Regions from separate parts of the Homo sapiens genome. Here region 1 is linked to region 2. The links come from fine-mapping of genetic effects on gene expression. A gene starts in region 2. The other region holds a variant in brackets. All regions are shown on one strand. Distances are from middle to middle.

What was found. PIP is the estimated chance that this variant, and not a neighbour inherited with it, causes the effect.
Region 1: its variant is fine-mapped to the expression of TP73 in whole blood (TOPMed, PIP above 0.99).

Annotation. Positions count from the first base shown.
Region 1 is chr1:3,674,674-3,680,033 of GRCh38, forward strand. The region is part of intron 1 of TP73 (tumor protein p73); the gene reads left to right. Among named protein-coding and RNA genes, the nearest start is that of TP73-AS3, 8.4 kb to the left of the region's middle. The variant C/G (reference allele first, on the strand shown) is at 2,970.
Region 2 is chr1:3,650,167-3,655,473 of GRCh38, forward strand. TP73 (tumor protein p73) reads left to right here and starts at 2,350. Exons shown (of 14, transcript NM_005427.4): 1 at 2,350-2,475. RefSeq lists an enhancer at 158-1,001 and a silencer at 1,961-2,910.

The DNA of each region.
Region 1 (5,360 bases), 25 kb after region 2:
GCCCTCACTCCGGGGGACCCCTGTCCTTGGCCCCAGCCTGCCAAGCGAGAGCGGCCCCTCTTCTTGCGGTGGCTGGAGGGGAGAGTGAGGCCCCTTGGCACAGAGGGCCCCAGGAGGCTGGGCTCTGATGACGCCCTGCAGGAATTCCGCTGGGCTGCTGCCTGGGAGAGCCGCTGTCTCACACAGGGCCAGCCTGCCTGGCTTCATTCTGGTGCGCTGACCGCCCGACCCCTCTGCCCAGGCGGGGGCTCTTCTGGGTTCTGGGTCCTGGGACCTGCCTGAGTCCCTGGGAAAAGGGCACAAGGGGATTGAGACGGTCTCCTCCCACAATGGCCCAGGTGTCTCCTCCCACAATGGCCCAGGTGTCTCCTCCCACAATGGCCCAGGTGTCTCCTCCCACAATGGCCCAGGTGTCTCCTCCCACAATGGCCCAGGTGTCTCCTCCCACAATGGCCCAGGTGTCTCCTCCCACAATGGCCCAGGTGTCTCCTCCCACAATGGCCCAGGTGTCTCCTCCCACAATGGCCCAGGTGTCTCCTCCCACAATGGCCCAGGTGTCTCCTCCCACAATGGCCCAGGTGTCTCCTCCCACAATGGCCCAGGTGTCTCCTCCCACAATGGCCCAGGTGTCTCCTCCCACAATGGCCCAGGTGTCTCCTCCCACAATGGCCCCAGGTTTCTTTGCCACTTCAGATTGGAATCGTTGATCTGCTGAAATAACAGGTAAAATCATTGGTGGTTTGGGAACCACCGGAATCAGAAGTGCATTGAGATGTTTGCTTTAGGGGTGGCCCGGGGCGGGTGGAGTTCCTGGGGGCTTTTCCCTCCTCCCTGAATGGAGGAGGACACCCTGCACCCCTCCTGTGATCCCCCTTAAGAGCCAGTGTCCGGGATGGCTGGGCCAGACGGGGCAGAGGGGCCTGTGTCTCCTGCCCAGGCTGAGTGCGGACGGCTCGGTCTCAGAGCTCCACCGAGGGGTGGGTAGGTAACAGCAGCCCTGCGGCCAGGGCCCCTGCAGGTGGGAGTGGGTGTCCCCATGGGGAGTGCCTCTTCCAGAGTGGGCTCAGTCGGGGTGGAGTGTCCTGGCTTATCAAAGGTGGTTGTGGAGCCCTGTCTGCCCCAGGCCTGGGCAGAGGTGGAAGGGGTTGGGGAACTGACGAGGCCTTACCTGTGGGCCCATGGCCAAGGAAATGTCTGGTCTCCCACCTCCTGTCAGGTGGTGAGGGGAGAGGATGGGGCGTCAGCCGGAGACGGGGTTCCTAGAGGAGGCTGGGTCCTGGCCTGGCCTGGAGAGATAGGGATGAGATGGGAGGGCAGGAAGGGGGTGGTAGACAAAGGCTGAACACAGAGAGCACATAGCCAGGCATGTGGGGACTGGGGACAGGGGACAAGGAGGGCACCCATGGGGACAAGAGATAGGGAGAGGACAGAGGGACAGGAGACGGGGAGGGACAGAGGATGGGGGACAAGGAGGGGACAGGAGGACGGGGACAGGGAGGGGACACAGAAACAGGAGCTAGGACGGGGACAGAGGATGGGAGAAGGAGAGGTCAAAGGGACAGGGAACAGGGAGGGGACCCATGGGGATAGGGCAGGGATCTATGGGGACAAGGGACAGGGAGGGGACAGAGAAACAGGAGATGGGGAGGGGACAGAGGGATGCAGACAGGGAGGGGATAGAAGATGGGGGGCTAGGGGACAAAGGGAAAGGGGACAGGGAAGGAACCTATGGGGGACAGGGAGACAGGGGGACAGGGAGAGGACAGAGGAACAGGGGACAGGGAGGGGATGCTTGGGGACAGGGAGGGAATGCTTGGGACAGGGCAGGGGGACAGGGGGCTGTGGCTTTCGTGGGAAGCTATGGAAGACGAGGCCAGAGGGGTTGGGCAGGGTGAGATGAGAGAGGCTGAGAGCCCCTCACCGGCTGCGGACTCCTCCCCACAGGGCAGAGGGGAGCATTCGGGTGCGGCCAGGCCATCAGAGGACCTGGGCTTGGCTGGAGTCCCAGCTCCTCAGCCCTCAGTAGCTTTGGGCCAGCCACTGGGCCTCCTGGCCTCCACTTGCTCATCTCTGAACTGGGGCAGGGTTGGCGTGTGAGCCTGAGGCCCTGCAAAGTGCCTGGCCAGCCTCAGCTCGGAGCCATGGCACAGCACCCCCTCTCCGCCACGGCCCCGACAGCTGGGCGTGCGTTCTGCTGTGGGCAGCTGCCCTGAGCAACGTAGGGTGCTAAGCAGCATCCCTGTCTTGCACACTAGATTCCACAGCACCCTCTGACCCCGTGGAAAATGTCCCCACATGGGAATATCCTCTGGGGGTGGAACTGCCCCTGGTGAGAACCCCTAGGCTGAGACCTCAGAAGGCCCTGAGTCAAACCGAGAAGTCATCAGAGAGCCTTGTTTTCAGCTCCAGGGAGCTTGGGCAGGCTGGTTTTCTGGGCCACACAGTCCCCTCCCCAGCCCACCTGTGCTCCGTGGGTCCCGGGGAAGCTGTGGGGGCCTAATTGCTGGTGTGAGTTCCTTTCCTGTTCTGAGTCACACGTGTGTGGGGGCTCTCCCTGTGGTGCAGCTGGTACAGCGGCCCCTGGAGTTGAGGATCCAAGCAGGCTGAGGTCTGGGTTTGCCGGAGGGCCCTCGGTGGCTGGTCTTTGTCCTGCTCCCACTGCTGTGGGCACTGTAGGACTTGGAACGCTGGTCACCTTTCCAGCCTGGCAAAGGGAGGGGACTTGTCTGAGGCCTCATGGAAGTTGGGGCAGGGTCGAGGTGCCCTGCTTCCTGGGTGTGCCAGCAGCCTACAGCCTGGCTACAGCGTAACCAGGAACACCCAGCACAACTGTCCTTTGCAACTCTGTGCCCTGACTTGATGGTGCCAGGGCTGGGGGGGTGCCGGCCAGCAGCTCCCCAATGACCACCCCCAAATGCTGTGGCCACACAAAGCCTTCCACTGCAAGACCTGTGGTAATACACACTGGA[C/G]GCCCCTGTTACAACTGAGAACTCATTTATTTCATTTCCTTCCTTCCCTTTTTTTTTTTTTTTTTTTTAGAGTTGTGGTCTAGCTCTGTTGCCCAGACTGGAGTGCAGTGGTGCAATCATGGCTCACTGCAGCCTCGAGCCCCTGGGCTCAAGTGATTCTCCCACCTCAGCACCCTGCGTGGTTTGGACTGCAGGCACATGCCATCACGCCCTCATGCCCAGCTAATATTTTTTTAAGTTTTTGGAGAGCTGAGGTCTCCCTGTGTTGCCCAGGCTGGTCTCAAGCCCTTGGGCTCAAGTAATCCTCCCTCCTTGGCCTCCTAAAGTGTTGGGATTACAGTTATGAACCACTGCACCCAGCCCATCCCTCCTAGACTAAATCTTCTTAGAAAAACCTACACTTCCAATAATGTATTTGCATTTTATGATGTTGATAAAACTTCCTAAAGATGTCTTATGAAATTGGTCTCCTTTCCCCATTGATACACATGATTTTTAAAACTATTGGCAACGTTTCAAAAGCAATTTCTGTTTTGTCCCAGAACCGTGATCCCCTTGTGAACGAATTTTCAAATTAAAAGGCAAATGGTTGGGAAAATTGGATTTAATTGAAAGGCCATTTTATTAGAATTGACTTATTTTTCTCGCCACTGGGATCCTTGCCTGAAAGGCGGCTGTGGGCAGAGGGCACATACTCCCCCTGCCCCAGCGCAGCGTCCCTGCACCCCCAACAGAGCTTCCTGTTCCTCATGCCCAGTACTCCCAGATGCCTGCGGAGCCAGTCATCAGCTCAGGTGTGTGAGGCCGGTTGGGGGAGCCCCTGCCTGGCGCCTGTGCCTGTGAGCAGTGTTCCTGTGGGGCCCTGGGACCAATGCTACCAGCGTTGGCGTTTTCCCAGGAAGTTGGGAATCAGGCATCTCGTGGCTTCCGGTTCAAGTTCCTCCGTGTGCTTTAAGTCTGGGCAGGTTTCCGGGTCCTGGTTTTGGCTAATGAGGAACCCGATTCCCATGGGGGAGGCCGGTGGCTGCAGCAGGGCCCCGAGCAGTGGCAAGGCTGGCCCTCATGACAGTGTCCTCCTCAGGGGGCCTGTCCCAGGCTCTTCATGACTCCCCTGGAGGCTTGTTAAAGGGGCAGATTCCTGGGCCCTGCCCCAGCCCCACTGTGGGGAGGGGTGTCCTGGAAGATGCATCTGCCCAGGGCTTCCGGCTGGTCCACACGCCTGCACCTGGAGGCCCACTGCCCACATCTCAGGCAAACAGGCCTGGGGATGTTTGGGGACCCAACTCCTGGCGTGGAGGAAGCCCCTTTCCCACCCCACATGCTCCTGGTGGTGGCCTGTCCTGTGAGCCTGGAGGGCCGGACGGGTGGGATCGGGGACCCACGACCACGCTCGCTGGCCTCTGTCCTGTGCCCAGGCAGGGATGAGAGGCCAAGCTGGTGTCCTGCAGTGCACAGTGGGTGCCGGTCAGGGGATGTGGAAGCTGGGTCTCCGGCAGGCAGAGGCGCGCTGACAAGAAGGGTCGCTGTTCCTCATTCAGGGTTCAGTGGGAAGAGAGGGTGTCGCTTCAGGGGGAGTTCACAGGATGCCGACTTGAAAATACAGCCAACGCCCATGTCCCAGGCATAAGATCACAAATCATGTTTTGCCGACCAGTTCCTGTGAGCCCTGAGCCCTGCGCGGAGGGATGCCCCGTGCACACCTGTTCACGGAACCCCTGGACCTCCAGTAGGGGTGCGGCGGGATGCCGTCGGCTCCCACGCTGTCTGTCTCCCTGTCCCTCTCTCTTTCCCTCTGTTTCTCTGTCTGTCTCTGTCTGTCTCTGTCTCCCTGTCTCTCTCCATCTCTCTCTGTCTCTCTCCCTGTCTCTCTGTCTCTGTCTCTCTCCATCTCTCTGTCTCTCTTTGTCCTTGTCTCTCCCTGTCTCTGTCTCTCTCACTCTCTGTCTCTCTTTGTCCTTGTCTCTCTGTTTTGTCTCTCTTTGTCCCTGTCTCTCTGTCTCTGTCTCTCTCTCTCTTTGTCCTTGTATCTCTCTGTCTCTCTTTGTCCCTGTCTCTCTCTGCCTTTGTCTCTCTCCGTCTCTCTTTGTCCCTGTCTCTCTCTGCCTTTGTCTCTCTCCGTCTCTCTTTGTCCTTGTCTCTCTGTTTTGTCTCTCTTTGTCCCTGTCTCTCTGTCTCTGTCTCTGTCTCTCTTTGTCCTTGTATCTCTCTGTCTCTCTTTGTCCCTGTCTCTCTCTGCCTTTGTCTCTCTCCGTCTCTCTGTCTCTCTTCCTGTCTCTCTCTATCTCTTTCCCTGTCTCTTTCTGTCTCTCTTTGTCTCTCTCTTTGTCCCTGTCTCTCTGTCTCTCTTCCTGTCTTTCTCTTTCTTTGTCCTTGTCTCTCTCTCTCTGTCTC
Region 2 (5,307 bases):
GTAGTTCTTGTGCCGCAGGGCTTTAAAGGAAACGCCCACGTTTCTTCCGACCAGGGATTTCCGACCCGAGAACCTTACCTCAAAGGCCGGGAGGCCTTTGAGCACCTCCAGCTAGGGCTGCTGATAAAAATGTAGAAAGCACAGTAAAATTTGAATTTCAGATTCACAACAAATCTAGTTATAAGTATGTTCCCAAATATTGCACGGGACATGCTAATACGGAAAAATTACTCGCTAGTCTGAAATTCAAATTTAATTGAGCGACCTGTGTGTCTGCGTGTGTGTACACATGCATATATATATATTTATATTTATATGTAAATGTATGTTTACATGTAAATATATGTTTACCTACAAATATATCTTTAATAAGTAATACGGTGTCTGTCGCACATATATTATATCGTGTATGTAATGTATAAGTATTTATTTCGTTTGCTTGGGGTTTTGTTTGCTTTTGCTGAGTCCGACCCCTCTACCTGCCGCCTGGCCCTTGCCTCACGCTCCAGTGCCACTGAGATCAAGGAGAGAACGAATTTGCCGCTGACTGGGCAGAGCGAGCGCGTGGATCGCGGCCACCGCCCGTTCATCACCCGCGCGCATCTGGGCTGGCACCGGGCGAAGAATCGTGCGGGTCTGGGACCTGGGGGCCCAGAGGGAGCGAGCTCCTGCGCGGGCGCTCGGTCCGCAGGTTTCGCAGGCTCAGGGGCGTGCCTCGTTCTCACCCCCACTCCGGACCCCGGTCCTCTTCCCTAGACAGCGGCCCCCTCCACCCCTGGCTCCCGCAGGCCGCTAGTAGTCCGCGCCAGGCCCCGCCGGCGCCTCTAGGGCCCCCCAGATCGCGCAGACCCTGACATCCCCGCCTGGCCCTGGGTTCTGGGAGCTGAGAGCCGGCCAGGGTCCTGCTCGTACCTCCGGGCGCCCAGCCTCGGGTCTGCTCCCCGCGGACGCCCCAACCTCCCCGGCCGAATGGATGGTGGTGCGCGCGCGTCCTACTCCGGCGGTGCCGGCCTTTTCTGTTGCCAAAACTAGACCCAAACCTCTGCATGGGATTCGTCTTTGGGTCCCCACCCCGTGCGCCCAGCAAACAGTGGGTGAGCCATGAAGATGTGCGAGTCAGCCGGACCCTCCCCGTCAGGCGCGGACCCGCTGCGGCCAGAGAACCCAGTCTGCGCCAGCCCGGCTCGCTCGCGAAGCCACGGGCTTCACTGACGCGACTTTCCAAGACGTGGGGGTCACCATGGGCAGAGGACATCGGTTCGGAGCCAGATCACGGGCCCCATAAGCATCAGACCATAAGCAGCGCCGCCACTGAGAGCCGCTCGGAACTCGCCCAGCATGTCGGGTCCCCTAGCCAGGGCCTGGTGTACGTGGTCGAGGGCCCTGGAAGCCCCGATGGCCTAGGAGGAGCAGGCGGGCGGGGCGGCGGGTGTCGCTGGCCGGTAGAGAGCTTCGGCCTGACCTAGCGCAGGTCTGGTGCGCGCAGAGAACAACTCCAAGCGCACCGACGCCCGCGAGCTCCTTCCAAACACCGAACGGGATCCAGAGCCCGAGCCCACAGGCGGCGGCCGGGGGAGGGAGCAGGGTGCTGGCCGCCGCCCGGGAGTGTTCGCGTCCTGGGTGACCCCTGGAAGGACGTGGGGCCCAAACTCCGGCTGGGGTTGGGAGAGCAGCCCCCAGAGGCTCTCCGCGGGATCCTCTGCCGGGCGGGACCGTGGCTCCACAGGAGAAGTGGGTGGCAAGCCCTGCTTGGCGGAAAGCAGCCGTTCCCCTCCTCCTGGGCCTGGGGCGGCGCCCCTCACCCCTGTTCCCCGCCCCTCACCCCTGTTCCCCGCCGGCCACATCCCCTGCCCCTTGGATTCCAAGCGCCCCGCGCGCCGAGGAGCCCAGCGCTAGTGGCGGCGGCCAGGAGAGACCCGGGTGTCAGGAAAGATGGGCCGTCTGGGGGACAGCAGGGAGTCCGGGGGAAACGCAGGCGTCGGGCACAGAGTCGGCACCGGCGTCCCCAGCTCTGCCGAAGATCGCGGTCGGGTCTGGCCCGCGGGAGGGGCCCTGGCGCCGGACCTGCTTCGGCCCTGCGTGGGCGGCCTCGCCGGGCTCTGCAGGAGCGACGCGCGCCAAAAGGCGGCGGGAAGGAGGCGGGGCAGAGCGCGCCCGGGACCCCGACTTGGACGCGGCCAGCTGGAGAGGCGGAGCGCCGGGAGGAGACCTTGGCCCCGCCGCGACTCGGTGGCCCGCGCTGCCTTCCCGCGCGCCGGGCTAAAAAGGCGCTAACGCCCGCGGCCGCCTACTCCCCGCGGCGCCTCCCCTCCCCGCGCCCATATAACCCGCCTAGGGGCCGGGCAGCCCGCCCTGCCTCCCCGCCCGCGCACCCGCCCGGAGGCTCGCGCGCCCGCGAAGGGGACGCAGCGAAACCGGGGCCCGCGCCAGGCCAGCCGGGACGGACGCCGATGCCCGGGGCTGCGACGGCTGCAGGTAGGAGGCCCAGGGCCGGGGGGCGGTTCGGCTCCGCGGGCGGGGGCTGGAGCGCAGCGCTGGGCAGGCACCTGGGCTCGCAGCTCCGAAGCTGGGAGGTGAGGGGAGAGCGATCGGGGACGAGCTGGGACAAGGCGACACAGGGGCTCCCTCGGAGTTGGATCGGCCCCTGGGACTTGGCGCTCGCGAGAGGCTGGAGCGGCCAGAGTCTAGCCTGCGAGGAGACGCGGGTCCTGCCCTCAGCGCCGGCCGCCTTTGGCGCCAAAGACAGCCCCGCAGGGGTTCCGGGAGGGCCCTCCTCCTGCTGTCCCCTCTCCACCCCGGGCTCCGAGGGCCGTTGGGAGGGTAACCCCGGGAAGAGGCCGGGGTGCGGGGCGCGGGTGCAGGTGGAAATCGCCAGCAAGCTCCTCCCCGCCCGCGCGCTCCCTCCGACCTGCAGGGCTGTGCCAATCCCGAGGCCTCAGCTTCCCTGAGGAGCCAGGGCCAGGCCCCCCTCTGGACAGGGAGAAGGATCTGGGCGGGGGCCTTGACCCATGGAGTTGGTTACTAAGCGGTTTCGATGGTTTCCCGAGGGACAGCTCCCTGTGGCTCTGAGTTTGTCTGTCGAGGGCTCCTGGCCTGTCTCCGGAGCGGTCCCAGGTAGAGAAAGCCCGTGAAGAAATGGCCCGGGCCGGCCTGGAGGGAGACACCTCACGCCCCCTTAGCTCCTGGGCCGCCTCCTCCTGCAGCCCCTGCCTTTCCCGGGGCTTGGACTTGGGGAGCGATGATTACCTTTGCTCAGCTTGTATTTTGGCCTGGACGCTAGGAGATAAGCCCATGTAGTATGCACACGTCTGCTACATAAACAGGGGACAGATAGACGATCTTCAACCAGCAAGGGTGCAGGGAAAAGCAATGCACCCCAAACTTCTGACCAGAGGTCATTTGCTTCCAAAGATGCTGCCATCTGTTTATTCACTGTCTGGACATTTGGAAATGGCTCAGGCTCATTAACACAATGCTTTGGTTTTTGTTGTTTTGTTTTTTGTTGCTGTCATTGCTGTTTATTTGTTCAGCCTTAGCTCTGGGGGAGGAGTAAACAAAGCGCGTGGCCTCTGGCACTTACTGAGCGCTGAGCCACCCCTCTTTGGATTTATTCGGGGAAAGATTAAAAAGCATTTCATTAAGAACAGGACACGGTGTTTGAAATGTTGCCATATATGAATGTATGCATTACGTATGTAGTTTTTAAAATAAGATAAAAAGTTGGCTGGGCACGGTAGCTCACGCCTGTCATCCCTCACAGCCTTTGGGAGGCCAAGGTGGGTGGATCACCTGAGGTCAGGAGTTCGAGACCAGCCTGGCCATCATGGTGAAACCCAGTCTCTACTTGAAATACAAAAATTAGCTGGGCATGGTGGCAGGCACCTGTACTCCCAGCTACTCGGGAGGCTGAGGCACAAGAATTGCTTGAACCTGGGATGGAGAGGTTGCAGCGAGCTGATATCATGCCACTGCACTCCAGCCTGGGCAACAGAGCAAGACTCTGTCTCAAAAAATAAGATGAAATAAGATAAAAGTTGGTGTCAGAGGCTGCAGTGTGGCAGCTGCCTATTGTCAATCAGAGGTAGCCTGGGGTGAACGGAAGGCGGACCTGAGCGGGGCTTGTCTATGCGCGGCGGCCACCAGAGAATGGCTCGGGATGTGAGCCCTGCCTTGCAGTCCTTCTCGTGAAAGCTACAGCGAACAGTAGCTGTCTCCAAATCCCGAAGGCCAGTCGCATGGAGAAGCTGGTCTGGCACAGTGGTTAATGGGGTAGTATGGAAGTCAGAATGCTGGGGTTCAAATCTCCTCTTCCCCATTTACTCCAGCAAGTCACTTAACCACTTGGAGCCTCAGGTTACCCATCTGCAGAGTCGGGTAATAGTAGTTCCTGCCTCAGAGGCTTGGAGAACAGTCAGTGAGGTGCCGTCCGAAGGGCTTGGGAGAGTGCCTGGCACCCACTCAGTGTCCTCACACATGATGGCTTCGGGTCCCAGGTGCTGTTCCAGAGCTGGGAGAGCCAGGAGCCCTGGGGAGAGACCCGGCTCCTTAGTATCTGGTAGGTATCTCCAGGGCAGGAGGGATGGCAGTGAGGCAGGCATCTGCCCAAGGCGTGGGTGGAAGCTGATGGCATCTGTCAGAAGTATGCACTGGGGCAAGGATGCCTGGTTTAGTATTTATTTATAGGGCATGCCCCACCCAGGTCCAAGAATGGATTGATAACACTGAGCACGTGTGAAAGGCACGGCTAAAGTGGAGAGAAGAGAAGAGGCTGAGGGCCGAGAGAGGAGCCGCACACCCACTCCAGAACCCGGACGAGGCCCTGCCCTTGCCCAGCGGCGGTATTAACCCTGAGATTCCGAGCACACCAAAGTGACATCGCGTACACGGTGAACCCTGTGTTTGCAAAAAGTCAGAAAAAGTCTTCAAAACATCCTTTAAGGCCAGGCGCCGTGGCCCACGCCTGTAATCTCAGCCCTTTGGGAGGCCGAGGTGGGTGGATCACTTGAGATCAGGAGTTCAAGACCAGCCTGGGCAAAATGGTGAAATCTTGTCCCCACCAAAAATACAAAAATTAGCCGGGGGTGGTGTCTGGTGCCTGTAGTCTCAGCTACTCAGGAGGCTGAGGCAGGAGAATCGCTTGAACTTGGGAGGCAGAGGTTGCAGTGAGCCGAGATCACCCCACTGCACTCCAGCCCGGGCAACAGAGCGAGACTCTGTCTCAAAAAAACACGCAAAAAATACTTTTGGTGTGTGTTTCATGTAACGAGCTGCCATTTTGCGGCTTGCCTTTGTTTTCCAGTGTGGGGA